7 separate regions of the Homo sapiens genome follow, and regions 2, 3, 4, 5, 6 and 7 are each linked to region 1. Evidence: fine-mapped expression QTL. A gene starts in region 1. Each other region holds a variant in brackets. All regions are shown on one strand. Distances are from middle to middle.

Evidence for each region.
Region 2: its variant is fine-mapped to the expression of CROCC in tibial artery (GTEx, PIP above 0.99). The same link has a PIP of 0.9 or more in subcutaneous fat.
Region 3: its variant is fine-mapped to the expression of CROCC in whole blood (INTERVAL, PIP above 0.99).
Region 4: its variant is fine-mapped to the expression of CROCC in esophagus muscle (GTEx, PIP above 0.99). The same link has a PIP of 0.9 or more in fibroblasts.
Region 5: its variant is fine-mapped to the expression of CROCC in whole blood (INTERVAL, PIP above 0.99).
Region 6: its variant is fine-mapped to the expression of CROCC in whole blood (INTERVAL, PIP above 0.99).
Region 7: its variant is fine-mapped to the expression of CROCC in pituitary (GTEx, PIP above 0.99).

The regions. Positions count from the first base shown.
Region 1 is chr1:16,919,577-16,923,639 of GRCh38, reverse strand. It overlaps CROCC (ciliary rootlet coiled-coil, rootletin), which reads right to left and starts at 1,709. Exons shown (of 37, transcript NM_014675.5): 1 at 1,562-1,709; 2 at 842-977. The coding sequence starts at 1,621. RefSeq lists enhancers at 1-750, 751-1,522, 1,523-2,294, 2,295-3,067.
Region 2 is chr1:16,531,008-16,535,070 of GRCh38, reverse strand. It overlaps LINC01783 (long intergenic non-protein coding RNA 1783), which reads left to right. Exons shown (of 2, transcript NR_135764.1): 1 at 1-645; 2 at 862-1,180. It also overlaps the pseudogene RNU1-6P. Among named protein-coding and RNA genes, the nearest start is that of TRE-TTC4-1, 2.3 kb to the left of the region's middle. RefSeq lists enhancers at 144-193, 1-448, 449-1,206, 1,766-2,291, 2,292-2,817. The variant C/T (reference allele first, on the strand shown) is at 2,190.
Region 3 is chr1:17,112,430-17,116,492 of GRCh38, reverse strand. The region is part of intron 1 of PADI2 (peptidyl arginine deiminase 2); the gene reads left to right. LOC124903861 (a long non-coding RNA gene) reads right to left here. Exons shown (of 3, transcript XR_007065506.1): 2 at 2,908-3,067; 3 at 2,648-2,822. Among named protein-coding and RNA genes, the nearest start is that of PADI2, 5.0 kb to the left of the region's middle. The variant C/ACTAC (reference allele first, on the strand shown) is at 1,781.
Region 4 is chr1:16,514,740-16,518,802 of GRCh38, reverse strand. No RefSeq gene overlaps it. Among named protein-coding and RNA genes, the nearest start is that of RNU1-1, 2.5 kb to the right of the region's middle. RefSeq lists enhancers at 4,010-4,063, 3,868-4,063. The variant C/T (reference allele first, on the strand shown) is at 1,784.
Region 5 is chr1:17,089,854-17,093,916 of GRCh38, reverse strand. PADI2 (peptidyl arginine deiminase 2) reads left to right here. Exons shown (of 16, transcript NM_007365.3): 5 at 233-350; 6 at 1,384-1,509. Among named protein-coding and RNA genes, the nearest start is that of PADI2, 28 kb to the left of the region's middle. The variant G/A (reference allele first, on the strand shown) is at 2,454.
Region 6 is chr1:16,952,151-16,956,213 of GRCh38, reverse strand. It overlaps CROCC (ciliary rootlet coiled-coil, rootletin), which reads right to left. Exons shown (of 37, transcript NM_014675.5): 21 at 2,733-2,912; 22 at 1,857-1,991; 23 at 1,337-1,480; 24 at 664-902; 25 at 58-217. Among named protein-coding and RNA genes, the nearest start is that of MFAP2, 26 kb to the left of the region's middle. The variant A/G (reference allele first, on the strand shown) is at 2,204.
Region 7 is chr1:16,700,409-16,704,471 of GRCh38, reverse strand. LOC124903858 (a long non-coding RNA gene) reads right to left here. Exons shown (of 3, transcript XR_007065500.1): 2 at 2,777-3,843; 3 at 1-1,517. It also overlaps the pseudogene ESPNP. Among named protein-coding and RNA genes, the nearest start is that of TRG-CCC4-1, 24 kb to the right of the region's middle. RefSeq lists an enhancer at 2,789-3,474. The variant A/G (reference allele first, on the strand shown) is at 1,710.

The DNA of each region.
Region 1 (4,063 bases):
CATCAAAGCCTCGCTCAAGAGAAGGGCTTCATGGAACTTTAAAGGCTAGGGCTCAGGAGAGCATAGCATAGGTCAGGTTGTGAGGAGAAGGAGAAAGAGAGAAGAGGGAAAGAAAGGCCAGCGGGAGAAGCGGGGTTGTCCACCTCCTGTGGGTTCCCCTTCTACCCTGGGAGAACTGGACATACACCCCAGGTGTCAGGGTGAGGGCCCTCTGAGTCTCTCCCTGTCTGGGGCTCCAGGGCGCCAACATCCCTGGCGCTCCCAAGGAGGGGGCCCGTCTGTAGCTTGGGAGTTGAACACAGACAATGGTTAGAGCACCAAAACGCCACACGCCAGCACACCAGCTGCAACTGAGTGTGCCTTTCCCAGATCCTCAAGCCACATAACTACACCGTGTGCGCCACCCACTGAGAGGAGCAGGGACCATCCGCCTTCCTGCCCACGTGGGAAACGGATGGACGGCGCCATCCACTCAGACTTCCGCAAAACCCTGGTCTGAGCTGAGCTGCCCTCTTCCTGTATCTTGGGTTCAGCCAGCTCACACCTTCCCCGGGTGGGAATACGGGATTTGGGGTTCACATCTCTGCAGCAGGCTACAGGCAAGCACGCAGGAGATGCTCGGCCCTTCCTTCTAGTTGCACCACATGCGGAATAAGTCTGGACAAATTACATCCCTGAGCCTCTGTTTCCTCATCTGTAAAATGGGTTCTTCTGTCATAAAGCTGTGCCTGCCCCACAGTGAGTTACAGTCATGATCATCATGGTGACTGCTCAGGAAAGGGACATGAGAAGAGGTAAAATGTGGGTGGTGTTTGTGGAGGGGAGCGGATGGGGGTGGCACCTGGGCTCTCAGGCTGGGAGAGGTTGCGGGTGACAATCTCCCTGATAAGGGCAGGCAGGCTGGTGATCTGAGCGTCCTGGGCCAGGTCCCGCGCGCCCAAGCCTTTCTCCTGGCACAGGACGCTGCTCTCCAGTGTCTGTGGGAAAAGCGAGAGGGTCTTCAGGGGACATGGGACCCGGGGCTCCCTGGCCTCGTGGGGAGAGCCACAGAATCCTACTGCCCAAGATACAGGTCCCCAGGAGCCCCCTCAAGATGGAGTGAAGCCTGGGAGTTAGAATCCAAAAAATCCCCATGCAAAGAGCCTCTTGTGTGCTCACTGCCCCAGGAAGAAGGCCCAGGGCCAGAGATGAGAACCAAACCCTACGGGTAACTCCCAAACCCCACTGGAGGCAGTCCAGTGTTGGGGGCCCCAATCCGGTTCCGACCCTAGATGGATGAGGATCTGGCTATGCCAGAGGTCCCCCAAGCCCTAAAATCTGGCAGTAGAGACCCCCTTCTCCCAACCCAGGGCACTGGGATGAGGGAGCCACAGCAGGTGCACCCTGTGTGTACCTCTGCCCCCCATCTTGCCAGGAACTGCAAGCGGGGGGCCCCTGTATACCCCACCACCACCACACCTCTCCCACCCCTTGATCCCCAAGACGCACACACCTCTCACCACTCCTGTTAAGTCCACGCTGCCCCGCCCCAGACAGGGTGGGCACAGCCCCCAGGACCCACCTGGATAACCGTCTCTAGTGTCAGCTCCACCTCCTGTGCCCCCGCCAGCCCCAAGCTCATGGGGGGGAGGCTGTGGGCATGCCTCCAGCCCCCTTCTCCAGGACCCCAAGACTAGCTCAGTCAGCACGCGCCACAGCCAGGATGCTGTGCTGAGCACCAGGCAGATTAAGCTTAAATCCGGCGGCGCCCCCATGTGACCACCGCGGTGGGAGGAGCAGGATGTGGGCTGAGGAGGGAGGGGATGGGAAAGGACAGGAGAGGAGGGAAGCAGAGGCAGGGAGCCAAAGGAAGAGGAAGGATGAAGAGAGGGGAGGAGAAGGGAGAGAAAAGGAGGGAGGAGAGAGAAGAGGGAATGGGAGGAGGAAACAGGGGAGACACCTGGAGGTCAGGACCTCACACACTCTTCACCCTGCGCAGGTTGCTGGGTCCTAGAGCCCTCCAAGCCCAGGGGGTGGGGTCAGTAGCCATGCGGCGGGAAAGGCCAGAGTCCTAAGTATTTGTGACCATCTTTCTGGCCCAGAACGGGAGTCACATGGTTAGCTAAGAATGAGAGGATTTACAGCATGCTGGGAGTATGTTTTCCCACAACAGGTGTAGGGCAAAGAATGCAGGCTGTGAGATCACCCAGGCCAGGCTTGGCACTTAGTTGGGCATGAGCGGTCCAGCCTGGACTGATGAGCATTTATGCAACACCTGCGGCATTCCTAGGTCTGACCTAGACACAGTGGTAGAGCCTCGAACTACAAATGCCCTAGCCTTGCCCTTCAGGCACTTATTGGGAAGCTTCTGGCCCCTTCACACCCACCCCAGCCCCCACTAGCTGGGTGCACCAGGGACACTGACTTTGCCTCTCTGAGACTCAGTGTCCTCTTACGTAAGATGTGATAATATTGGTACTCATCTCTCGGAGCCGTCCGGGGATGAAACAGTATCGTGTGTGCATACCCAGCACATGACATGGTGCTGGGGGGTCACGTGGCCAACACTCAAGAAATACTCATTTCATTCATTTGAAAATCCAGAAGGTACAGTCCCAGCCAGGCGCAGGCACTCATGCCTGTAATCTCGGCATTTTGGGAGGACAAAGCGGGTGGATCACCTGAGGTCAGGAGTTCAAGATCAGCCTGACCAATATGGTGAAACCCCGTCTCTACCAAAAATACAAAAATTAGCCGGGTGTGGTGGTGCACACCTGTAATCCCAGCTACTTGGGAGGCTGAGGCAGGAGAATCGATTGAACTCAGGAGGCAGAGGTTGCAGTGAGCCAAGATCGCGCCATTGCACTCCAGCCTGGGCAACAAGAGTGGAACTTTGTCTCAAAAAAAAAAAAAAAAAAGGCACAGTCCCTATATCCCAGGGCCCTGAGACCCAGAGGTCACCCACCACCTCCCATTGTTCTTTCCCTGGGGCAAGGAGGCTATGTGCTCTAGTGCTTAGGCGCACAGCTCTGGAGTCAGTATCAGGTCTGAGGTTGCATGTGAGACTCAGCTCTGTCACTTGCAACTATGGTGTTCAAGACAGTAAGACCTTGAACAGGTTACCTCCCTGAGCCTCAGTTTTCTCATCTCTAAAAGGAGACTAAACCAGGCCAGGTGCAGTGGCTCAAGCCTCTAATTCCAGCACTTTGGGAGGCTGAGGCGGGCAGATCACTTGAGGTCAGGAGTTTGAGACCAGCCTGGCCAACATAGTGAAACCCCATCTCTACTAAAAATACAAGAATTGGCCTGTAATCCCAGCACTTTGGGATGCTGAGGCAGGCGGATCAGGAGGTCAAGAGATTAAGACCATCCTGGCCTACATGGTGAAACCCCGTCTCTATTAAAAATACAAAAATTAGCTAGGCATGGTGGTGCACACCTGTAGTCCCAGCTACCTGGGAGGCTGAGTCAGGAGAATCGCTTGAACCTGGGAGGCAGAGGTTGCAGTGAGGCGAGATCATGCCACTGCACTCCAGCCTGGCGACACAGTAAGACTCCGTCTCAAAAATATAAATAAATAAATAAATAAATATAAAAAAAATTAGCTGGGGCGTGGTGGCATGTGCATATAATCCTAGCTACTCAGGAGGCTGAGGCAGGGGAATCACTTGAACCCAGGAGGAGGAGGTTGCAGTGAGCCGAGATTGTGCCACAGCACTCCAGCCTGGGTGACAGGGCAAGAGTCTGTCTCAAAAAAATAAAATAAAATAAAATGAGACTAGACCGAGTGTGGTGATTCAGGTCTATAATCCCAGCACTTTGGGAGGCCAAAATGGGAGAATCGCTTGAGCCCAGGAGTTTGAGACCAGCCTGGGCAACATAGCGAGACTCTGTCCTACCAAAAACAACAAAAAAATGCGACTGATAGTACCTACCACACCTGGCAGGTGGTGAGCTATTAGCCAATGGGGGCCACTGTTCCTATTGTCATTAGCATCACGTGTCTGGGCTCCTGCCCTTAGAGTTGTAAGCCCTAAAAAAGGACAGGAATTGCTCACTCGAGGAGCTCGGCTTTTAAGACACA
Region 2 (4,063 bases), 390 kb after region 1:
AGCTTCTCGCTCAGGTGTACACAGCCCGGCAGAGATGCCAGCCCCCGTGGAGCTGCACCCAATAAGCCCACCTTCTTTCCCGTCGCCACCCCGGAGACGCCCATCGGGCTGAGCTGCGAATAACTAAGAGAGAGGCCAAGCCAAGTCGTGGCGTTTGTGGCAGCCCCGGACACGGGCACCAGCCAGTCAGCGGAGCCTCCTCACCTCCGTTGCCAGCGAAGGCGCTCGTTAGGCCTTGGGAAGAGGCGACCGGAGGCGATGCCCGCGAATTTGTTAGGGGGGTAAGCGGCGGGTGAGGTCCTCGAGGGCGGTCCCGTTTGCTGATTGAGCGGTAGAGGGAGGCGATGTTCGCTGACCCAACAAGGACAGCAGGTGGAGTAGGCACAGACGGAAAACTGCTGCCGGTGCCCTAAGCAGAAGGCAGGTGGAAAAATCAGCACTAGGACGTCGAAGCGATTGTACCACAGTCAAATCCCACGACGTCTACACTCTACCAAGCACTTGCGCACGCTCCCCCTTTTCCATTCAGTACTCCCAAGAGGGGTTCGGAAGAACCCCGAGTCCACTGTAAGCTCAGGGGAGAGCGGGAGCCAGGGAGGTGAAGTGCGCAGACTCGGCAGAGGCGGCGGGCAGAACCGCGCGGGGGTGAGAGGGCGCGGTGGCTGCGGGGCGGGAGCCGCTGCTGAGAGGCGGCCTGGGTTGTCTTGTGGGGTGACTGTCGGTGGAATCTTTGGTGGAGAGTGGTTTGGAAGAATGGCGAGGGGCGGCAGTGGGGAGGGTGGTGACCCTGAGCGACCGGCCAGGGCGAGGAGGCTGTGCTGTCCCTGCAAGCCATGTGCTCATTTCCACTTTACCTGGCAGGGGAGAGACCGTGGTCACGAAGGGGGTTCTCCCAGAGTGAAGCTTCTTCATCTCACTCTAGAGTTGCTGATCCCTGTGATTTCCTCCATGTGGGAAATGGTGTTTGTGGTAGAAGAGGCTGCGCTCTTTACCTGACATAACGGGGTTCAAGACTGACAACGCCTCACGCCCATCCAAAAACGTTTACATGGCTTCCTTGTCTCTTTTTTTTTTTCTGTCCTAAAGTCGCCTTATCTTCACATCCCCTCTTTTTTTTCTTCCACACTCGAGAGTGTCTCTCTCATTAAAAGCTCCACCAAATATTTGAAATATCTCAACCAGAAAGACTGCAATAAATACATTATTTCATTCGTGGAAGGTACAGACCAGCTAGATTGAGAGTTGCTTGATATTTTCTGCTAAACGGTGAGGCATAGAGCACTTGGAAGGTTTCTCTTTGGGCCACTGTTTGTGTACTCTTGGGTTTCCTTCTTTTCCCCAGACAGTATGGCGCTGTGGGGCCAGGGGTAAACCCTGCTTTCCGGCTTTCTGGCTGCAGATAAAGGCCTCAGCTGGTGCAGGAATCAAAAGCAAACCAAAAGACACGTGGGTTCGCCCCAGTGGGTCCAAGATAGAGTCTGACTGTACCAGGATTCGGATTAGAACAGAGGTTGCTGCAGGCACAACGCAGACTACTAACCACTAGAGAATCCCAAGGCGCCCCACACCTACTGCCCGTCGTTTTGCTTCCCCACCCCTCTATTATTTATTTATATATTTTTTTGAGAGACAGAATTTCGCTTTGTCGCCCAGGCTGGAGGGCAGCGGCACGATCTCGGCTCACTGCTACCTCCGCCTCTTAGGTTCAAGCGATTCTCCTGCCTCAGCCTCCTAAGTAGCTGAGACTACAAACGTGCACCACCACGCCCAGCTAATTTTTGTATTTGTGGTAGAGACGAGCTTACACCATGTTGGCCCGGCTGGTCTCGAACTCCTGACTTCAAGTGAGTGATCCACCCACCTCGGCCTCCCAAAGTGCTGGGATTACAGGCGTGAGCCACCGCCCCTGGTCCCCCGATTTTTTTTATTAATGTAAAAACATTATGCGATTTTTACTTCTTTATTCTTGGGCAGCTACAGGTTCTTGTGATTTTCTCTCACATCTTCTCCCCATTTCCTCCTCTCCGATCTGATACATGTCCCATCTTCTCTGCATCCAGCCGGTGCCCTCTGCACGGGCATCCTGGGCTGTCCCATTGTCTAGTCCTGGTCTCCCCTGCTTCTCCCTCCTCCTTTTCACGTTTTCCCTTTTGACTCCCCTGCCTCTTTCCCGCTCCCGCCCCACCGAC[C/T]CCATCTACTGAAGCCGAGTTGAGTGAAGGGAGAGCAAGCGGAACAGATGATTGCCTGAAGGCGGCGCAAAAGAACAGAAAGAGCTACCATGAGAGACGTCGGGGAGTTCAGCTTCCCTTGGGCCCTACTTGGCTCAGGCTGGGGTCGCAGATCCAGGCATTTCCAGAGGCACTGGCTTCTGAAGCAGGCGAGGGTGAACGCAGGGTGAAGGCCATTCGGCCGCCCTTCTGGCTTCAGAGTCACGCAATGCACGCGTTTCTAACGTGCAACAACACGATTAGTCGACTCAGCCTCTCCGGTTTTCTGAAGCTTTGTAGTCTGCACAGTTGTCCCGCAGAAAGCAAATGGCAACTCCTAGGGTTTAGTGATTGCTTAATCTATATAGAGATGAAAGCAAGCGATTGAGGTTGTCTCTGTGGTGCAATCGGTTAGCGCGTTCGGCTGTTAACCATAAGGTTGGTGGTTACAGACCACCCAGGGACGTGATTTTAAACGTTGGTTGTGACCAGGCGCAGTGCCTCATGCCTATTAATCCCAACGCTTTGAAAGGCTGAAGTAGGGGAAGCCTCCACTGAGCTCAGAAGTTCAAGACCAATGAGAATCCCACCTCATTTAAAAAAAAAATGCAGTTGTATCTATCTCCTCAGACCCATCAATGTATTTAAAAGTGAAAGACTGTTCCCTTGTGTCTTGTGCATCCCATGAGGACAGACAGCAGAAGGTCCCCCTCCGAGCCTCCTAGAAAATGAGATCTCTGCAGAACAAACTAGCTTGTATGTACGGGAAACAGAAAGTATTTGAAGAAACAAACTTCAAAAATTCTGCCTTGCTTTCCACAAAAATTAACCCATCACAGTCTGCCTTCAAGTGGCATCATACCTCTTCACATGACTCCTCCCCCTGCCTTTATGCTATTGTCATGCATTTTACTTTACACCTGTTATAAACCTTACAATCCATCTCTATTACTTTTGTTTCAAGAGTCAGATGTGTTTTTGTTTGTTTGTTTGTTTGTTTGTTTGTTTGTTTTTGCTTTTTTGTTGCTGGTGGTGGTGTTTTTAAGACGAGTCTTACTCTATCGGACAGGCTGGAGTGCAGTGGCACAGTCTTGGCTCACTGCAACCTCTGCTTTCCGGGTTCGAGCGATTCTCCTGACTCAGACTCCTGAGTAGCAGAGATTACAGGCTTGCGCCACCATATATGACTAATTTTTGAATTTTTCGTAGAGAGGAAGGTTCACCATATTGGCCAGGCTGGTCTCGAACTCCTGACCTCAAGTGATCCGCCTTCCTTGGCCTCCCAAAGTGCCGGGATTCCAGGCGTGAGCCATCGTGCCCAGCTAAACAGTCAGATGTTAAAATTATATATTTGCCTATGTAGATGTCATTTCTAGTGTCTTTTTTTTTTTCATCCACATTTTCATCTGGTGTCAGTTTCCTTCTGCCTGGAGGACTCCTTTAACTTGTCTATTAGGTGTCTTAAACTTGCACTATCATTCACTGATGCTCTGTTCATTTAAAAAAAAAAACTTGTTGGCCGGGTGCGGTGGCTCACGCCTGTAATCCCAGCACTTTGGGAGGCCGAGGTGGGTAGATCAGGAGGTCAGGAGATAGAGACCATCCTGGCTAACACGGTGAAACCCCGTCTCTACTAAAAATACAAAAAAATTAGCTGGCTGTGGTGGCGGGCGCCTGTAGTCCCAGCTACTCAGGAGGCTGAGGCGGAAGAATGGTGTGAACCCAGGAGGCGGAGCTTGGAACCTGTCAAAAGGCATTCTTAGCCTTAAAAGAAAAGCCAGGGACATCCCTTGCCTCAGGACTCTCGAACTTAGAAAAACCTTTCACCCTCTATGTGGATGAATAACAAGGGACAG
Region 3 (4,063 bases), 190 kb before region 1:
GCTGCCCGGACACAGGTCCTGGCTCAAGACCCCAAGTGATGCCCCCAGAGCCTCCAAGTAGACCCCAAGGAACAAGGCCCGGGGGTGCTGGGCCCAGTTAATTACGGAGTGGCATCCTGACCCTCACTCCTTCTGAGTCGCAAAGGTGAGCGAAACGGCCTCAGCACCCACTCCCTTTCCCAAGGGCTCTGGACTCCCTTTCCTGTGATGCTGGCACACAGGATCCCCTCCAGACACATAGCAGGGGCCTCCCCAGCCTCATTCCTCAATAGACCTTGTGGTCCTGGCAGGCACTGCCCTACCAGCTTCCATCCACGGGCTGTGTGACCTTGAGCAAATCGCTTCACTTCTCTGAGTCTCCACTGACCCAAATGGGGGTCGATCAGAGAACAGGAGGAAGGATCTTGTATTCAATAGAAGATGTACACTCAGGGTCACAGTGATGAACAATTGACCACTATGCTGCCCTATGAGGGGTCATCCAGGCCACCATGGGCAGGGGTGCTCTGGGCCACCCACGCTCTCCCAGCAAAACTGGCCCCCCTGGGGATGGATGCCTTGACCTAGCCTCATTCTGACTGCTAGTCTCCAGCAAGCAATGAATAGATACATAGAAAGAAGGAAGTAGGGTGTTTGTTAGAAATTGTACTTTGTGATTGTTGTTAAAGATACTCGCTGTTTCCTTCTGCTCTTCCCAAATATACTCATCTTAGTCTTGGCACAGGTACACCTGGCCCACACAATCTCCTCCGGTGGTCCCTTTAGCCGACAGTCACTTCTTCAGTGGGGCTGGCCTGGGTCCCCATCTGATTTGGGCTTGAAGTTGGAAAGAGAGCACAGAGGGAGTCCCTAGGTTGGTTCCATCCTGGCCACCCACCTCTTGTGAGCCCTGGAGGCATGGACACTCCCAGAGTCTGGAAGGATTATTAGGGACAGGGCAGCCTCGGAGTAAAGTAGGTAGCAGGGTGGTCACTCTCTGCCCACAAGCTGGGCCTTGGGAATGGCTTCTTCTGTTCCTCCCTCGGCTTATGCCTCTGTCAGTGAGAGTTCTCGAGAAGGCAGGGCTCTTCTTTTCCTCCCTGGTGTACAGGAGCCAGGATCCAGATCCTGAGGTCTGCAGGAGCTTCAGGACACTGGAATGATCTTAACATTGTCCCTTTGCCTGTGCAGAGGTTCCAGCTGCGTCTGTGAGGTGGAGGTGGGAGGATTCCCTTCCCTGGGATTCCCCAAGGCAGAGGCTGACCAGCCATTGTCCCAGTAGAAGACAGAAAGAAGATAAATGTCAGCTAGTAATATCAAGTAAATAGTAATAATTTGCCCATAACTCGCTGGCAGAAGATAGGAAGAAGGTATCAGGCAGGCGCTCCTAGACTTTGGCACAAACTCACTCCCAGACTTTCTGTCTCTTGGTTGGTGTGAAGGCTAGAGATGTATTTGCTTTTTTAAAAAGTGTCATTAGGACAAAGGCCAGGAGGGTCTGAGATCCAGTTTTCCATGATGGGGGCCTGGGGTGCTATGGGCTCCCCTCCCCATAGTGTGCCAGGCCCTACCTCACTGATCTCCTCTTCTAGCAATTCCTCAGCACACACTCCATTCCGGCCACGCTGGCTTTGTGGATGCTGTTAGCCCTTGGCTGTGCCAAGCTCATTCCCACCTCAGGGCCTTTGCAGTTGCTGTTCCCTCTGCCTGGAACACCATCCCCCAGATCCCCACAAGCCTGACTTTCATCAGTCAAGTCTCAGCTCCAATGTCACCTCCTCCAGGAAGCTTTCTTTGACTA[C/ACTAC]CCCATGTCGTGGTGCCCTACCCTGAGTCCCGAGAACTCTGTTTCATCACATTTTTTTCTTTGCACAACTTCTCATCGTTTCTTAATGTTACTAGTTGACATTTATTGAACACTTATTTTGTGCAGGCTTCTCAACACTTTGCATGCTCATCTCACGGACATGTAATAATTTACGTATTTAAACCTTGCAACAACTTTATGAGTTAGGTACAATTATTGTCCCCTTTTCGCAGCTGGGGAAACTGAAGGAAGGAGTGTTTGTCCAGGATGGCACAGCCAGTAAACTGTGGGGTGCAGAGCCCAGGCCCCTGCCTGCTCTGCCAGGCTGCCCTCCTGGTACTTATGTTTCAGGCGTGCCTCCTCCTTGTTTGTGATCCTCCCTGGAGTCAATGAAGGGCTCCCTGAATGAATGAATGAATGAACGAATGAATGAATGAATGTGGCCTGTGATGCCTGTGGACTGGCCTGTCATGGGGCTGAGCTCCCCACCCCCAGCCTCAAGGGACAGGCACCGTTGGATGGGCCTGTGGAAGGTCAAGGGCATGTGGCCAAGCTTGGCCCGAGCAGCGCTTGCTCCTGAGAGAATGACGGTGGGAGGAATTCAGGCCAGGTCAGGTGGCCCATAAATTAGAACAGCACCCAGAGCCCTCAACCCCAAACGGGATGCCTTGCCAGGAATTGCTCCAGGGCTCTGGTTTCAGGCTAGTTTCCTGGGGTTGGGAGTGTTCTAAGGAGAACCAGGCTCACAGTCCCTGCATAGTTGGGGTCCCTGAGACCTTCCCTCATTGACTGCAGGGCCCTGAGTTGGGATGGGAGCACAGTGGCAGGGGCTCACCCCAGTGCCCACCCCTAGCTGGCCAGACATACCTGCTGCACTTTGGAGGAGGCAGCTTTTGAAGGCAGCTCTTTCCTGCCCAGCCACGCCAGACCTTGCACCCAGAGGCTTTGATGGGCCCAGGCTTGCTTCTCTCTGTCATTGACCCAAGAGCCCAGGACAGGAAGCCAGTCTTTAGTGTCCCTTCTCTGTGTCTCAGACTCCCACCTGTGAAATAAGTAAGGGGCTCTCATTTGGTCCTCTTCAGAGCCAGGCCTGATCCTCCCCTCTGCCCCACACCAGGCACACCTACCTGGGGGATCTCAGGAAAGACTCCAGACTTTGAATTCTCTCCCAGGGAGGGGACAGCCAGGCCCAGGTCTCAGAGAGCCTGAGTTCCCCTCACACTCGGCCATGACTGTCCCTGAGATTTGAAGCGGGTGCTTGCCCTCTAGGGGCCTCAATGTGCTCATCTGTAAAATGAAATCACAGTGGTATGGGCCTCATGGGGTTATCGAAAGAATGGGCTGAGGTCATGTGGGCCATGGGCTTGGTACAGTGCCTGAGACATAATGAATACTCAGTTCCCTGGTGGTCTAGTGGTTAGAAAAATAATAATAATAATAATAATAATAATAATAATAATAGTAAATACTCAGTAAGTTGTTATGTATTAGTATTGAGTTTATTTTGAAAACAAGTAATAATGAGACCTGATCCCTCTCCTCAAAGACTTCATAGCACTTATGGGAAAGAAATCTAGAACTGAATTTATTAAGTGTTGTTTGAGACACCAATAAATGGAGGGAGAGATATATTCTGGCTGATGAGATCAGGGATGACTTCCTGGAAGAGGTGGCAACTGAGCTGGGTCTTGAAGGATGGACTGGGGTTCAGAGTGAGACCAAGAACATGCCACTCAGGGGCAGAGATAACTGGCAGGGAAGTTGGGGCACACAGAGACAGAAAGGGCACAGCTTCAGAGGCCTGGAGTATAAGGCTGGAGGGTCAATGAGCTCTAACCAGGCTTTGAATACATCGTTCAGACATTGGACTTTGTTCTGTAAGTAGCAGGGAGTCACTGAAGGTTTCTGAGGAGAGGAGTAGCTATAGATCAGATTGTTTCTTCCCTAAGGAGAGGCCCGGGACAGCTGGATGCACCAGGTGGTGAGGGAAGCTGGCTGAAGGCAGACGTCATTGTTTGCCTCCACTGATCCCTGTTCAGGGCAGCTGCCCACCCACAGGGCCCCAGCCACCACCATGCCGAGCACCAGGTGTGAGGTCTGGACTGAGGTCATTCTCCCCGCTGGTCCTTGCCTGCCTCTTGCTCGCCATGGGGTTGCATGACAGGCTGGCACCCACGACTCCCCCCCCCAGACTCCTCTAAAGCCCCAAGAGCAGGATGTCACACCCAGGCTGCCAGGAGCTGGGGTCACTCTGGGGATGAGCCCCAGCTGGTGTTAATGAGG
Region 4 (4,063 bases), 400 kb after region 1:
CCGGGTTCAAGCGATGCTCCTGTCTCAGCCTCCCAAGTAGCTGGGAGTACAGGAGTGCACCACCACGCCCAGCTAATTTTTTGTATTTTTAGTAGAGATGGGGTTTCGCCATGTTGGCCAGGCTGGTCTCAAACTCCTGACCTCAGGTGATCTGCCTGCCTTGGCCTCCCAAAGTGCTGGGATTACAGGCATGAGCCACCGTGCCCAGCCTTGCTTGCTTTTTTAAATCTTACTTTTTGTTTTGGCTGCTCAACTTCTGCCTTATATCTTGCTTCTTGCTCTCCCACCCCATCACCTTGCTTCTTTCTCTGCTTTCACTCACTCTGCCTTTTATCCAACTTCCAATTCCCTCTGCTGTTCTCCTGCATCATAATGGCAGTTAGTGAGGGGAGGGTTTTGAGGTGGCATGTCCAACCTCCTAGCCTGCCACATCCAGAAACTGCTTTCGAAGTTTCTCTGTGGTCCTGTCAGCCAAGAGGGAGTCCATTCAGTTGGTTGTAGGGCCTAGGGCTTATTTTTATTTCTCAAACCTGACAAGATAAAGCTGGATTAATGCAGATTCTCTGCAGGTGTAAATTTCCCCTACAAAAGACAGTTTTGCAGAGTTCCTTCTGTTTGCTGGCTCTCTGACAGCCATCTTAAAATATGCCAAAGAAATATATTCTGGGGTAAAATACTTTGATTTTCTTCATCTATCAACAGCTTCACCATGCTGACAGCCTCCAATCCAAGCATACCTGAAGCTTTTCTTTGTTTTTTTGTTTGTTTGTTTGTTTGTGTGTTTGTTTGAGACACAGTCTCGCTCTGTCACCCAGGCTAGAGTGCAGTGGTGTAATCTTGGCTCACTGCAAGATTCGCCTCCCAGGTTCATGCCATTCTCCTGCCTCAGCCTCCAGAGTAGCTGGGACTACTGGTGCCTGCCACCACACCTGGCTAATTGTTTGTAAATTTTTTAGTAGAGATGGGGTTTCACCATGTTAGTCAGGATGGTTTGATCTCCTGACCTCGTGACCACCCACCTGGGCCTCCCGAAGTGCTGAGATTATGTGTGTGAGCCACCGTGCCCGGCCCCTGAAGCCTTTCTTTTTAAAAAGCTTTCCCACCTTTATGACTGCCTTCAAGTCTCTGCCAAAACACAAATAACAGTGACTGACTCCCTGCTATAGCAAGCTCAGAATAAATAGCTTTTGCTTTTTTTCATTTGGTTGGTCTTTGTTTATTTGCAGAAGCTTCAATGTAGAGTTGACAAGGACTCTAGTCTTTGACCAAACCTTAGTAGTTTCCTCTGAGCCCTTTTCTCTGTTATTTCTTTGCCTGCCAAGTCCAGTTTTAGGAAAGAATACTGTTGAGTCTAGTTTAGCAAGAGTCCTCGCAACCACCTTTGATAGCTAATCAAGTTCCTCTTAGTAATTTTCCATCCACTGACTTTCTTATCTTGCCAATTGGCTATAATCTTCAACTCCTCCTGCTGTATTCGAGGTTGAGCCCAGTTCTCTGCTGGTCTCTCTTGCCTACTGTAGTAAATACAATAACATCTGTCTCATGTTTTTAAGAAGTGTCCAGTGCAGCCCCTCAGAAACTACCTTTGCAAAATTATGACAACAAGAGAAAGCTGACATGGCTGACTCCATCTTGGTTCTAGCCTCACAGGCTTGCTGTCTTTGCTCATTCCTGTGCAATTTCTCCCAAGCTATCTTTGGGAAAAATAGAGTTTATAGTTTAAATCAGGACTCCCCAATCCCCAGGGCCATAAGACAGGTACTGGTCCATGGCCTGTTAGGAA[C/T]CCAGCTGAACAGCAGGAGGTGAGCTGCAGGCTTTCGAGCATTACCACCTGAGCTCTGCCTCTTGTCAGATCAGCATGAGCATTAGCTGCTCGTCAGAGCTCGGACCCTATTGGGAACTGCTCATGTGAGTGATCCAGATTGCGCACTCCTTATGAGACTGTAACTGATGCCTGATGACCTGAGGTGGAACAGTTTCATCTGGAAACCATCCACCACCCCCTTCCATGGAAAAATTGTCTTCCATGAAACCAGTCCCTGGTGACAAAAAGGTTGAGGACAGCCAAAAAGGCTGCTTTAAATGATAACCTTCCCCAAAACTAAATTACCCCTGTAAAATGAATGAAAGGCCACCAAGTTAGAAGGATGAAAGGGGCCTGATTTCTACTAAGATGTATGCCTCGTTAAATAATTACCAGCCATTATTCCAGAAGTCACAAGATTGGCAGCTTCCCCAATTACTGCTGTGAAGAACATCACTATTGTAGAACCTAAGATTGGCCTCTTGAGATGTCTTTTCAGGCTTTTGCATTTCTGACTGCTGGAAGGCACCATCTGGCCCGAAAATCAACCAGTCCCTTAGCCCCCACCCAGAAGCTGACTCCATGCAGGAGGGCCATTTTCCACACCCCTGTGATTTCATCCCCAACAATCAGCACCACGCAAGCCCTAGCCCCCTCCCCACCAAACTATCTTTGAAAAACCCCTTACCTCCAAGCCTTCAGTGAGATTGCTTTGAGTAATAACTCTGTCTCCCACATGTCGTGGCTGGCCTGTGTCAATGAAACTCTTTCCTGCAGTGCCATGGTCTCCATGAATTGAATTTTTGTGTACATTGGTCAGGAAGAACCCATCAGGTGGTTACATCTGCAGGATGGTGCCAGTTCTTTCCACAAAGGCTGGTCAGATACCCAGAAAGCATTTCTCCACTACTACCTGGACAATGTGTCTCCCTGTCAATCTCCAGGGAATGGGGCCTGGATCAAGTATTTAGTATTCAGCAGTTACTACACTGTCACCCAATCCCTCATTTTCAATATTTTGCCATGCTTCCAGTGGCCTAACTGGCCACCATGCCACAGAATCTTTACTTTACGGTCTCCAAAGAGAACTCTCCACTCGATGTTTTGTGATTTGAGCAATGGAATAGAATCTGATACTGGTGGGCTGGGGGAGGTCCCTGGACACTGGTGGGATCTCGACCCCAGCCGTGGTGTCCAGGCTCTTGACACCATCGCGAGAACAAAGTCAAAGATGAGTCAGCAGATAGTGAAAGAAGAGATTTATTGCAAAGCAAAAAGTACACTCTCAAGAAAGGGGAGCTTGGGCATACCCAAGAGAGAATAATGGGTTCTGGGGTTTCATCTTGATGGGTTTCTTTAACCAAGGAGTGGAATGTTCACGAAAATTCCTGGGTAAAGGTGGAGATTTCTTGGAACTGTGGTGCCATTTTTACATCAAACACTGGTCTCAGAACTGTCATGGCACTGGCGGGTGTGTGATTTAGTATGTTAATGAGCATATAATGAGGGCCTAGGTAAAACCTCCATCCAATCCAGCACCACGTTGGGTCCACTCAGCCTTAGCCAGCTTGGTCCACACCCTGGTTTTTCAGCGTCTTAACAGCCCACAGCCTCAAGTCATGTAAATCTGCTGCCTAGAATTTGTTATCCTGTGACCACCCTGTAGTATTCCTGTCTGAAATCTACTTGTAAATATTCAAATGGTCTTTCACTTGGGCATTCCAACTTTGCTTACTTCACAGTGTTTCCTGCGTAATATATAAGAAAAGATGATCCAGACATTTGTTAAACATCTCAAATAAGATGTAGCCCAGGTATTTGTGTCAAATTTGGATTATTTTGGTTTCGTCTTTGCAGAATATAAAAAACTAACATGAGGTAAGCACTAAGGTGTGGAGATGGCTGTGCAAGAGATGACAAAGTCCAGCACCACGCTTGAGAGTGTCCAATCATCTCTTCTGGGACAGCATATTTTTCTACAATACGGATTTTTGAAAAAAAAACAACATCAAAAAAAAAAAACCTACAAGATTCATGAAACTGGACAACTGTCTTTATAACATTACCAGTGATAAAACCAGTAAGGAAGGCTGGTTTGCAGTCATCTGAGCAGCCTCTTTACTTTCATAAATATGGCTTCTCTCTGATATTAAACGGCTTCCAAATGCAAGCGGAATGCTGCATCACAAGGATAAGGATGTGAAGAGAACCGGTTTCTTTTGTAATCCGAAACATTCTAGTCTGCGAATTAAAAGCCAT
Region 5 (4,063 bases), 170 kb before region 1:
CATAAATGCCTCAGTCAGCCTTCCTGTCTCTGTGCCTCTATTGAACTTGCCTTTGATGCCCACATTCATCCTCTGTGGACATCAGTCTTGAGATTCACATTTGCCAGGTCACAGCTGCCCCAGTGGGTGGCGGCTACTCTTTACCCTCATCCTGGGGCTATCTCTCCAGTGTCCCATGGGGTCTATACAAGCATAGAGAAGAGGGCACTGACCTTTCTTCCTGCCACTGTAGGCATCCTGGACCTGGGGCCCCGAGGGCCAGGGGGCCATCCTGCTGGTGAACTGTGACCGAGAGACACCCTGGTTGCCCAAGGAGGACTGCCGTGATGAGAAGGTCTACAGCAAGGAAGGTGCCAGCAGGCCCTGCACTTGGGGGGCAGGATGAGAGGAGTGAAAAGATTCATGCCCAGTCCTGGGCTGGGCTGAGGGTGAGGCAGGTGTGGACTCAGGCCTCCTGGGGATGGTGGACACAAATTCCCACTCTTGCTTAAAGCCAAAGGCAAAACCATAGGAAATAGACAAGGGCCGGGCGTGGTGGCTCACACCTGTAATCCTAGCATTTTGGGAGGCCAAGGCAGGCAGATCATGAGGTGAGGAGTTCAAGACCAGCCTAACCAATATGGTGAAACCCCATCTCTACTAAAAATACAAAAATTGGCTGAGCGTGGTGGCATGCACCTGTAATCCCAACTACTCAGGAGGCTGAGGCAGGAGAATCACTTGAACCCAGGAGGCAGAGATTGCAGTGAGCCAAGATCATGCCACTGCACTCCAGCCTGGGCAACAGAGCAAGACTCTGTCTCAAGAAAAAAAAAGAAGAAGAAGAAGAAGAAGAATAAAAAGAAAATAGACCAGAAGGAAATTCCCAAAAGGTTAATCATCTCTAGTGTTGGAAATGACAACTGGTTTTTATTCTGTTTTATGCTTTGCTTTTTTCTTTTTCTTTTTTTTTCTTTTTTTTTTTTTTTGAGACAAGGCCTTGTTCTATTGCCCAAGCTGGAGTGCAGTGGCATGATCATAGCTCACTACAGCCTCAACCCCCTGGGTTCAAGCCATCCTCCTGCCTCAGCCTCCTGAGTAGCCAGGATTACAGGCACATGCCACCATGCGTGGCTAATTTTTTTTATTTTTGTAAAGATGGGGTCTTGCTATGTTGCTCAGGCTGGTGTTTGTCTCCTGGCCTTAAGTGATCCACCCACCTCAACCTCCCAAAGCACTGGGATTACAGGTGTGAGCCACAGCACCCAGCCTCTTTATGCTTTTCTATAGTTTCCATAATACACATCCATGGGGATTTTTTCCTGATTATCAAAGTAAAAGGCATTGGGAAGCTGAGGCTCCAGCAACAGATAGATCTCTTCATTCTCACCTTCTGTCCCTCAGATCTCAAGGACATGTCCCAGATGATCCTGCGGACCAAAGGCCCCGACCGCCTCCCCGCCGGATACGAGATAGTTCTGTACATTTCCATGTCAGACTCAGACAAAGTGGGCGTGTTCTACGTGGAGAGTGAGTGATCCCAGCCCAGTCCAGCCTAGACCTTTCTAGCCACCTACCCTCCTCCCCTTAGCAGTTGTGGCCTTCACAGGTGCAGGTGCCTGGGGAAGACCTGGATTGGTCTCTGAGTGATTGTAACATGGCAATGCTGTTGTCCCGTGAAGTTGAAAGACTCCATGGGGACACATCGCTCCTCCTCTCAAAGGAGTCTGGAGTGACATGGGTCTATGTAGAACCCAGAGGCCCTTCCTCCCTACGAATCAGGGGAGGAAGGGCATTTGGGCACTTCTTTTCTGGAGTCATGTCACCTTCAGGATACCTGAGGCAGGGCAGGCACCACCTCCAGGTATTTTCTGCCATCTCTGACTTTCAAAGACCCCCTAAAGATGCAGTGGGCACCCTTGAAGAGTTGACCCCTTGCTCCTCTCGATGGCAACAGATGTCCTGGGCCCCCACTGTGTAGGGCACGGGCTCCTGCCCTGGAGCTAGTCCTCGTAGCTGCCGGCTCTGCCTCACCCTGTCTGTGGATATGTGTTGAGCCCTTTGGTGCCAGGCCCTGTTCTCAGCTTTGAGATCTCTGCAGTAAACACAACAATCACACCCTGCCCTCAAGGAGCCGCCAGTCTAGCAAGAGAGACATAATCAGTACCACAATTGGAGGAAATGAAATAGAATAAGTGAGGAGAATGGCAGGGCAGAGGCACCACTAGATGGGTGCCTCTGAAAAGGCCTCTCTGAGGAGGTGACATCTGAGCTGAGACTCAGATGAACAATAAGAAGGAACCAGCCACTCGTGAGCTGAGGGAAGAGTGTTCTAAGCAGAGGCAACAGCATCTGCAAAGCCTGGAGGAGGAGACCAGTTTAGAGTGTGGGAAGAGCAGATGGAAGCCCAGAGCAGGGCTGGGAGTCAAGGTCAGTCAGCTCGGCCAGGGGCCAGAGCATGCAGACTGGGTTTG[G/A]ATTTTCTTCTGAGTGCAATGGAATGCCATTAGAGGGTTTTATGCAAGGGACTGTCATAATAATGATGTATGTGTTTTAAAAACTCCCTCAGCAAAATAGTCGGCATTGCAATTTGCCATGGTACAAGGCGGGTCGTGGGGTGGCGGGAGGAGGCTTCTGCATGCCCAGCTGCCTAGGGGGGCCAGGATCTCTGGCCCAGCCCCGAACCCACCTCTAGACAGGCCTACTAGATCCAGGGCATTCACCATGAGGTGAGTAGGGACCCTGGACCCTCACATCAGGGAGATATTTAGCCAGGATGGCAGTGGCCAGCAGCCACCCAATACCAGTCTTCCTTCTGATCCACCCTGGGCTCCAAGCAGTGACCTCACACAGGTTGGAATGTGCCCAGAGTCAGGCTGGCTCCGCTGCCGCAGGGGGCCGGAGATGTTGATGTTGACACCATCCAGGCCAGGGTTGTCATGGAGGATGGGATCACCAGTGGGAGCAGGAGGGATGCAAGCAGGACCTCAACCTCGGCCTCTTGACCTTGGTGTCGTGACACGAGACCTGTTGCAAATAATGATGTCTGGACATTATCTAGAAGTTTCTTCTTTTTGCTAAAGGGAGTGGACTGGTCTGGTTCCATAATCTCATCCCTCCTCATCACTTGCCATCTGAGATGGGTCCTGAGCAGACAAGAAAAAAGAGGAACTACTACCACAAGGGCTTTGAGAACGTCCCTTGGAGCCTCTTATTTGGGCTGCCCATCCTGTGGGGAGCAGCCACGACTGAGACAGTGGGGACCCAGAAGAGACAGTTTCCCAATAATGCTGACACTGGGTCACTGGGTGAAAACTCTTAGACACACACACACACACACACACACACACACACACACAAGCAAAGGACGACAGATAATTGACCAGGAGCACAGTCTCTTTTTCTTCCAGGCAAACACTTTGGAGTTATGTCAAATTCCAGGCACCCCTGTGGATGAGCGAATGTCAGGTGTCCTGGTAGGGTCAGACCAGCTCTCCCCAAGGCCAGGGGGCTGGGTTGGAGACTGAAGGACCCCTATAGGGAGTGCTGGAGTCAGGGAGCTACAATTCTGGGTCCAGGCAAGTCTTCTCACCAGCCCCAGCCTTGGGGTGCTCATCTCTGACGTGGCATGGGAGTAGTAAGAGTTCCGACTGTCCCGGGTGTCCCGGATCGTGGTGGGGATCTAATGAGGAAGGTGTGTCAGGCACTGAGTGCAGTAGCTGGCCTTTGGAAAGCTCTCCATAAATGGCAATTATGGCTTTTGTTGAGATTATGATGATGACTGTTAGTTACAATGATTGGAGTGGACAGAAGGCTTCAGTGCTCCTAGGAAGACCTGGTAACGGCCTTAGCCTCAAATTCTGCCCAAAACACCAAGCACTGGGGCCTTACCTCTTTATACAAGGAAATGGTAATCCAGTTTGCCCAGGACTTTCCTTATTTTAGCACTGAGGGCTCCTCATGCCAGGAAACCCCTCAGTCCTAGGGAAACCAAATCAGCTGGTCACACTATCAAGGAGTCTCGCTGGGAAGTGGAATCATTCCAAAGTAGCTAGAAAGGTTAAGGCAAACCACGTGCCAGCCAATG
Region 6 (4,063 bases), 33 kb before region 1:
CTATTGGCCCGGGGCACACAGCAAGCCCCAGGCTAAGGGGTGGCACAGGGAGAGTACCTGACGCCGGAGCTCCTGCAGCTCCCGCCGAGCCTCCAGCCGTGAGCGCTCCACCTCCTGCAGCCCAGTTCGCAGCTCCCCGGCCTCCTTGCCCACAGCTGTCCGTGCCTCCTCTAGGAGTGCCAGCTTCTGCTCCTTGTCCTCATTGGCAAGCTTCAGGCTGGAGAGGGCAGAGGTCAGGGGCTGCCCTGGGTCCTGGGAGTAGTCAGTGGCTCTACACAAAAGCCGTCTCCTCCAATTTCTGGAGTGGATCAGGCACTGCCTGCCCATGTGGCCTCTCTGAAGAGCTAAGCCCTGAGCCCTGCAGGGCTGGGGCCCAGGCCCTCGGCTGGGAGGGGTAGACCAGTGACTCCAGGAGGGGACCTGGTTTCCAGGGTGATGACGGTGGGTGGGTCTGAGTCTGGACCCAAAGCTGCCCACTGCCCCTCTGCCCCTTTCCCCAATCAACAGGGAGGAAACCTTCCTAAAATCACCCAGGTGCCAGGCTCTGCTTAGGAGACAGAGGATCCGTATCTGGGCAATTTCCCCAGAACGTTGGGGGTGAAGTTAGGTTTCAGGGATGGGATCCCATGAGGACTCAGGACTGGTCCTCCTGCGACACCCCACCTGATGCGCTCGCTCTCTGCCTTCTTCACAGCAGACCGAAGCTCCTCATTGGAACGCCGCAGGGCCTCGCGCTCCTTGGCACCCTCGCCCAGGCTGCGTCGCAGCTCGCCTGCCTCCTGGCGCTGCACCTCCCGGCCCTCCTGGCTCTCACGCAGCTTGCGCTGGGCCTCCAGCAGCTCCCGCCGCAGCCCGTCACGGGCATCCTCCAGCAGACGCAGCTGGGTCCGAAGCTCTTCTGCCTGTGAGCACAGCAGGTGTCCCCAGGGCAGCGGTCAGGGACCCCCCCGTCAAGCTGGGTCTTGTACCCCAGATCCCTGGACCCAGGGAGCCTGCCCCATCCCTCTGCAGTGCTCAGACCGCAGGCTGTGAGTTATCATTTGAGCAAGGCGTGCTGTAATCAGTAATGTTTTGACCTGAAGTCACCATCAATCAGGACTGTCCTGAGCACAACACCAAGAGGGCAGAGACCCCACTCACCCCTCCTTGAGGCCAAATCCCACCTGTACACAACAGGTGCTTCGTAGTGCTTGCTGCCTCCTTTCTAAGTTGCTATTCATTGGTCCTCAAATGCAGGGAGGAATCTTACACTCTTCTGGGGCCCTGGGGAACTAGGCCCCCAGGCACACAGTGCCATTTAGGGTATGCTGCTTGGAAGAGGGGGGCGGCTGCTCACCTCGCGAAGACAGGAGTCCCGCTGCTTGCCCAGGTCTCGGGCCTGCTCTTGCAGCCTCCTCACCTCCTGGGCGTGGGCCGCAGCAGCCTCCTCCCGCTGGGCCCGTAGGTCCCGCAGCTCAGACGTCAGAGCGTTCACGGTGCTCTGGGACAGAGGGGCTCCTCAGACTTGGTCCTGCTGTGTCCCCCAGCCCCGGGCTGCTCCCAACCCGCTCAGTGCACTGTCCACTTTTAGCTCTAAACACGGCCCCTCCCGCTGGCCTGCCGGACCCTCTGCCAACCCCTGGATGCATAGTGAGTGCTGCCCGTGTAGCCAGCCTCTCCCTCACGCCAAAAGGATTCATCAGGGCAGGGCTGAGCCACCTCCCTCAGATGGGGGCTCCCAAAAGAAGGGCTAAACCTCCTTTCCCACAGCCTGGAAGCTTCTCCAGGACAGGGCCATGCCGCCCCGTGGTGGGGGCTCCTCAGCCAGGGATGTGCCTCTCTATGAGACAGAGGCCCAGCTGCCCAGCCTGCCCTACCCGGTCCTGCTCCTGCCGGCTCTGGGCATCTCGTTTCTGCCGCTCCATCTCCAGGGAGATGGTGGCCAGGCTGTGCCGTGTACCCATCAACTTCTCTGACAGCGCCGTCTTCTCAGACTCCTTCAGAGACAAGGCCTGGGCAGAGGCAGGGGACAAAGGGCTTGGGGGATGGGCTGGTCCTGGGGGCATGCTCAGGCTTCTTGCTGCCTAGGAAATGTGCCCACTGGGGGCTTAGAGGCCTGAGTGTGCCACTGCAGGTGGACCCAGGGCAGACATGCAGCCCTGGAAAAGGGCACAACGGCAGTCACAAGAATCCCGGACGTGGATACCACTCATAGAGCTCACTA[A/G]CCCGCCACAGCACCCTGACTGCAGAGTCTTTCTTTCTACCCATCTTACAGATGAGGAAACTGAGGCTCAAGGAGGTAAAGTGACTCGCCCAGGTACACAGCTGGTGAGGAGAGGAGATGGGCACAGTCTGCCCTGTCTCCGTTACATTATAGGAAAGTTAGGGATTTGTTATTTGGGGGGACACGTCAGCTGATGCCTGTGGGCATCGTGGGGACTGCTCAGAAGGCAGCCATGAGGATCCATGCCCAGCGTGGGGTGGGACGAGGCATGGGAGAATATGGAACAGCTTTCCTGGTGTCACGACTGTCACTGTCACTCAGTAAGTGCTCACTGTGTGCCAGGCATGGAGCACAGCAAAGCCTCACGAACCCCCTTCTAATCCTCCCCTCCTGCAGGTAAGGAAACTGAGGCCCCCAAGAGGGCAGTGGCCTGCCCCAGGGCTCCTAGCTGCCAAGTGGCAGAGCAGGGCCCGGCCCCAGAACTGGAGCAGCTCAGAGAGCAGCAGAGGCCATGCCAGGGCTCACGAACCTGCTGCTTCTCACTCTCTGCTAGGAGGAGGCCCTCGTCGCGCTCCTGCTGCAGGGCAGCAATCTCCTCACTCAGCTCTTCCTTCTCAGCCTCCAGCCGGGCCAGCAGCTCCTCCTGCTCACGCTGCAGCTGACTCTGCAGCTGGGCCCGCTCGGCCTCCAGCTCCCGCCATGCTGCCTCCTAGGGGGCCAGGACCGGATGCCTGTGACACACCAGGAGGGGGCCCAGGCAGACCCCCCAAAACATCAGGGCAGCAAGAGCCATCTGGCCCCCATACCCTCAGAGATGGAGGGTGACCAGGTAAATACAAGGGAGTGATAAGGGCTATGACGGGGACACGCCAGGGCCGTGAAAGTGCCAAGGAGCAGCAGTGGGCTGGCCTGGGGGTCCGAACATGGTCCCCTGCGGAGGGACAAGTAACTGTCAGCCAGGTAAGGAGAGAAAAGACCACCCCAGGCCAAGAACACAGCCCCTGGAAAGGCCTAGAGGATGCAGGGTGCAGAGGGGAACGGGACATGGTGAGTCACAGGGCCAGAGCCCCAGGCAGGGGTGGGGCCAGGACAGGCCGTGTGGGCCATGGGGATTCTAAGGACAGTGAGGGGAGTGGGAGAGAGGACTCGAGCCAAGGTGACAAGGAGCAATCTGATTTTTAGCTTAGGGGATGTTCCGACAGCTGTGGAAGAGGGATTGGGGTTGGGATGGAGGGGAGTTAGGACTGGCTGTGAGGAATGAAGGGGGTCAGGGGTTGCCAGAGGAGCTGGAGAGAACACAGATTTGGGGACATTAATGAGGCCAAGCCAGGCAATGCAAAGGGCAAGAAGAGCAAGGGGGAGGTCACAGGAGTTCAGATCCCTGGGGACTGGACAGGCGGGCAGGCAGAGCCCACAGGCAAATAGCAGCCCACCTGGGGAGCCTGAGGGCAGGTGCCTGCCTCAGCACTTGCCCCTAGCAACTCTGTGAGAAGCAGACAGAGCTGCCACTTCTTTTTTTTTTTTTTTAGACGGAGTCTTGCTCTGTCACCCAGGCTGGAGTGCAGTGGCGAGATTTTGGCTCACTGCAACCTCTGCCTCCCAGGTTGAAGCGATTCTTCTGCCTTACCCTCCCAAGTATCTGGGACTACAGGCGCGTGCCACCACGCCCAGCTAATTTTTTGTGATTTTTAGTAGAGATGGGGTTTCACTGTGTTAGCCAGGATGGTCTCGATCTTCCGACCTGGTGATCTGCCCACCTCGGCCTCCCAAAGTGCTGGATTACAGGCATGAGTCAGCACGACCGGCCAAACCGCCCCTTCTTTAAGATCTTCACCGTAGCTCATGCCTGTAATCCCAGCA
Region 7 (4,063 bases), 220 kb after region 1:
GTGAGGGAGAAGGCCGATCTCCTGGCAGTTCTCCCCCTGGGGTGCAGCTCAAGGCCCCCTCCTCGTCGATCTCTCCACCCTCCTAATCAGGGAGGAGCCAGGGGAGGGAGTTTCCCAGGAACCTGGGTCCTCTGCCTGGCGGGGCTGGGCTTGAATCTTAACCCGGAGGAACCTGAAAGACCCTCTAGCGATGGGGAAGAGACCCCAGAGAGGGGTGTGGCTTGGCCAAGATCCCACGGCAAAGGCATGGCTGAGTAGGACCCTGGCCTGGAGAGCAACGCATCTTGGGGTGCAGTTGCCTTCATGGCCTCCCTGCCTCCCCTTCAGAGCATGGAGCACTGCGTGCTCTCCCGGGATCCATCCGTGGAGCTGGAGGCGAAGCAGCCGGATTCAGGCATGTCCTCACCCAACACCACGGTGTCGGTCCAGCCTCTGAACTTTGACCTCAGCTCGCCCACCAGCACCCTCTCCAACTACGACTCCTGCTCCTCCAGCCACTCCAGCATCAAGGGCCAGCACCCTCCACGTGGTGAGTGTGCCCAGGAGGAAGAGGGGGAGGGAGAGCAGACTGAAGCCAGACTGCTGGGCTGTGAGGGTTGGCCTTGGGCCAGCCTGCCACAGCCAATATCGGAGACTACTCTTATCACTTGCTTTTAAACATGGGGAGGCGACACCCTTTCTGGTGAGAGACAGATGTCACTCATACTTGTGTGTGCTCATCACAGACATACATGTACATCCACATGTACTCTCCCCACCCACAAAATCCACGTGTGCCACCCACCATTCATTATTCTTAGCTACTCACACACAAAAGCACACACTTGTACATGTGTACACACAGCATACAGATATGAACACACATACAGAGCCATGCTAATATCTGCACACACCCACCTTACACACAAGCACACAATGCTCTATTTCCATACTACAGATATGCACACACACACACACCATGTCCACAGAGCAATGCACACACATTCATCAATACAAAGAAGCATGTGCACAAATGCGTACACACTCAAACATACACAAATTCACAATCGCCTCGGCAGACTGCAGGCTTGTGTGTACACACACCCTGACCGTGCCCTGAGCATGGGCGTCCATCCACTTGCAATGCCTGCTTCACGCCACCAGATGGTGGCCTCCAGACCTGGCAGGGTGCCCTGCAAAGATTGGATGTGGCCATCTGTACTCCCAAGGAGTAGACCCTCCCCTTCCAGGTGACCCTGCCCTCTAGACACACCAAAGCCTCCAGTGCTTCCCCTCCAAACCGGAGTGCCTGGTCTTCCCCCAATAAGTGCTGGGCTGGGGCAGGGCAGGGCCAGGGAGAGGAAGCCCAGCAACGCCAGGGGCCACAACAGGTGTACCAAGTGGTGCCCGGAGCCCACCTTGGCCCTCGGCAAGTTGTTTCCAGGTGGTGGAGAGTCTCATTCTTGGGGGAAAGGCTGTCTGCATGCTTCCAAATCTGGCCCTTCCTTCTGCCTCCCCAGGGCTTTCCAGCACTAGAGCTGCAGACATACAGAGCTACATGGACATGCTGAACCCAGAGCTGGGCCTGCCTTGGGGCACGATTGGGAAGCCCATACCCCCACCACCCCCACCCAGCTTCCCCCCGCCACCCCCGCCCCCAGGCACCCAACTGCCCCCACCCCCACCTAGCTACCCATCTCCCAAGCCTCCTGTGGGACCACAGGCAGCTG[A/G]CATCTACATGCAGACCAAGAACAAACTCCGCCACGTGGAGACAGAGGCCCTCAAGAAGGAGGTAGTGAGCCCTCACCCACTGCCTGCCTCCCAGCAGGGGTACTGGGCTGATGGGGGCCAGTCAGGCCAAAGGCCTGGCCTCACTAGTGGGCACAGGGTGGGGGTCCCTGGGTCCATGGCATATTCAAGAGTCAAAGCTCCTGGCGAGTCCCACGAGGGGTCAGGGCTGGACACTGGACTGGGAGGAGAGTAAGAGCAGGTCACTGCCCTCCATGGGAGCTGGGGGGTGAAGGACGCAGGTCCAGACAGCTGTTCCTCACCAGGAACTGGGCCTGTGCCACCTCTTGCACAGGAGTGGCCGGGTTGTCATGGAGTTGACAGAGAATGCATGGAGACTGCCCCTCCCCAAGCATGCCCCCCCACCCCCACAGCCCCAGGCTCAGTCGGAGAGTGTCACCCAAGGGAGGTGGCTGCCAGGTGGAAGGTGCCAGTGGCATGGCTGTAGAGGTAAGGGCTGGAAGGAGGGAGGGAGGAAGGTGAGCAGGCACTAGCAGGGCTGGGCGCCCACCGGCAGTAGGGGCTGGGAGGAAGTGAAGCTGTGGCTGGTTCCAGTTTAGGGCTTGAGCTCCTGGGGGAAAGGGCCAGGCCTGAGCTGGGAGCCCTGGAGGGAAGCGAGCCTGTGTGGAGAGGATGAGGGCAGGGTGGGTAGGTGAAGTGTGAGGTGCCTAGGGATGTCTGGGGCCTGCAGGCGCCTGGCTGAGGCTCTGGAGCAGGGATTGGGGCAGAGGTCTGGTCTGAGCAATTGCGGGTATCCTCGGCAGGGTGCCCTGGGGAACACTGGCGTTCTGGCCACAGGAACAGAGCAAGGATGGTCTAAGAGGTGAGGGGACAGCCTGAGGTCACAGGTGGCCAGATGTGGTGTGGCAGCTCCCTGGGGTCCTGCTGGAGCCTGGGACCTTGCAGTTCTCTCTTAAGCCCAAGGCAAAGCCACCCCAGGGCCAATTCATACAAGGTGACTCAGGTCACAAGGCCAGTGGGCAAGGGAGGCATGGGAGGGACACCAAACCTGCAGGCCAGCTCCAGTAGCTGCCCTCTTCACGCCACCTTAGACCAAGCTCCCACAGTGGCTTTCCCCTTTCATCTCTGGGAGGCAGAGGGGGCCGGGCGGGTAGGGCTGCAGGGGCCCTGGAATCGTTGAGCTCCCGGCGCAGACTGTGGGCCCCGCCCAAATCCACAGGACAGGTGGCCCAGCCAGTGCCCCCTCTCCACCGCTGAGCCCAAGTGCCAGGTCTGTGAGGTCACCTCCTGGCTGTGCGAGCCCCCTCCCGGCTGTGTGCGTCCCTCCCGGCTGTGTGCGTGCTGGGCCGCAGACGCCAGGGCCCGGGCCGGGAAGCTCTACAAAGGGCTCTTTGTGTCGCCGCGGCGCCTCCCGCGCGGGTGCCTGACCGCAGGTGGGAGCAGGGTCGTGGCGTCGGAGCCTCCGGGCTGCAGGGGGCGCGGAGCCGGCGGGCTGGCCCAGAAAACGAATCCTGCGGTGTCGCGTTTCCTGCAACGTGAGCCAGGTCGGGCGGGGTGAAGGGTCTGAGGCCACCGCAGGGACGCATGGGCTGGAGAGTGGGGCAGGGGACAGCCCCCACCCGGTCACTCAGTCTTTGGCCCGGCCGCCTCACTCTCCCTCACTGAGCTGGGCCTAGTTGGGGGCAGCTGCGACGGGGCGGGAAGCCGCGCTGTCACCCGACCCCGCCTTACGGCCCCTGAAATCCGAGGCTTGAGCGCGGGTGTCGGTGTCGCTTTCGTGGATGGCGATGGTTTCCAGATGCAGGAGGGAAACGGTGGGGACGCGACCCGGAGCCGGCAGCCAAATATGAGAGGCCCCCTCTGCCCACGGTCAGCCCTCTCTCCTCTCGGGCGGGGATGAAGGTGGGGGCTCAGCTCCCAGCTTAGGGAGAGGCGCAGGGGGCGGGGTCACATCTGGCCCGGGGCGGGTGCAGAGCCGCGGCCAGGTGTGGCAGAGTAGTTGGCGCCCCCGTGGCATCCGCGACGGCTGGGGGGGGTTCGGCCTGGGATTGGCGGGCCCCGGGTGATGTCAGGCCGTCGGAGCCCATAGGCTGGCCGTGCGCGGGCGTCTGTAACCTGAGAGGAAGTATCACGTAAAGCAGGTGTCGGGTCCTGCCGCCCCCGCCGCCAGGTGCACAGCAGGACCACCAGCACCGTGGCAGGTTGGAGCAGCCCCTAGACGGACAAGCGGGGTCCGGGGCAAGCCGGAGCCTCGGAGAGCACAGGCTCTGGAGGGGGCTCCCTCCGGCCCGGGACCCCCGAAAGACAGGGCTCCGCGGAGCCCTGGGGACCCGCA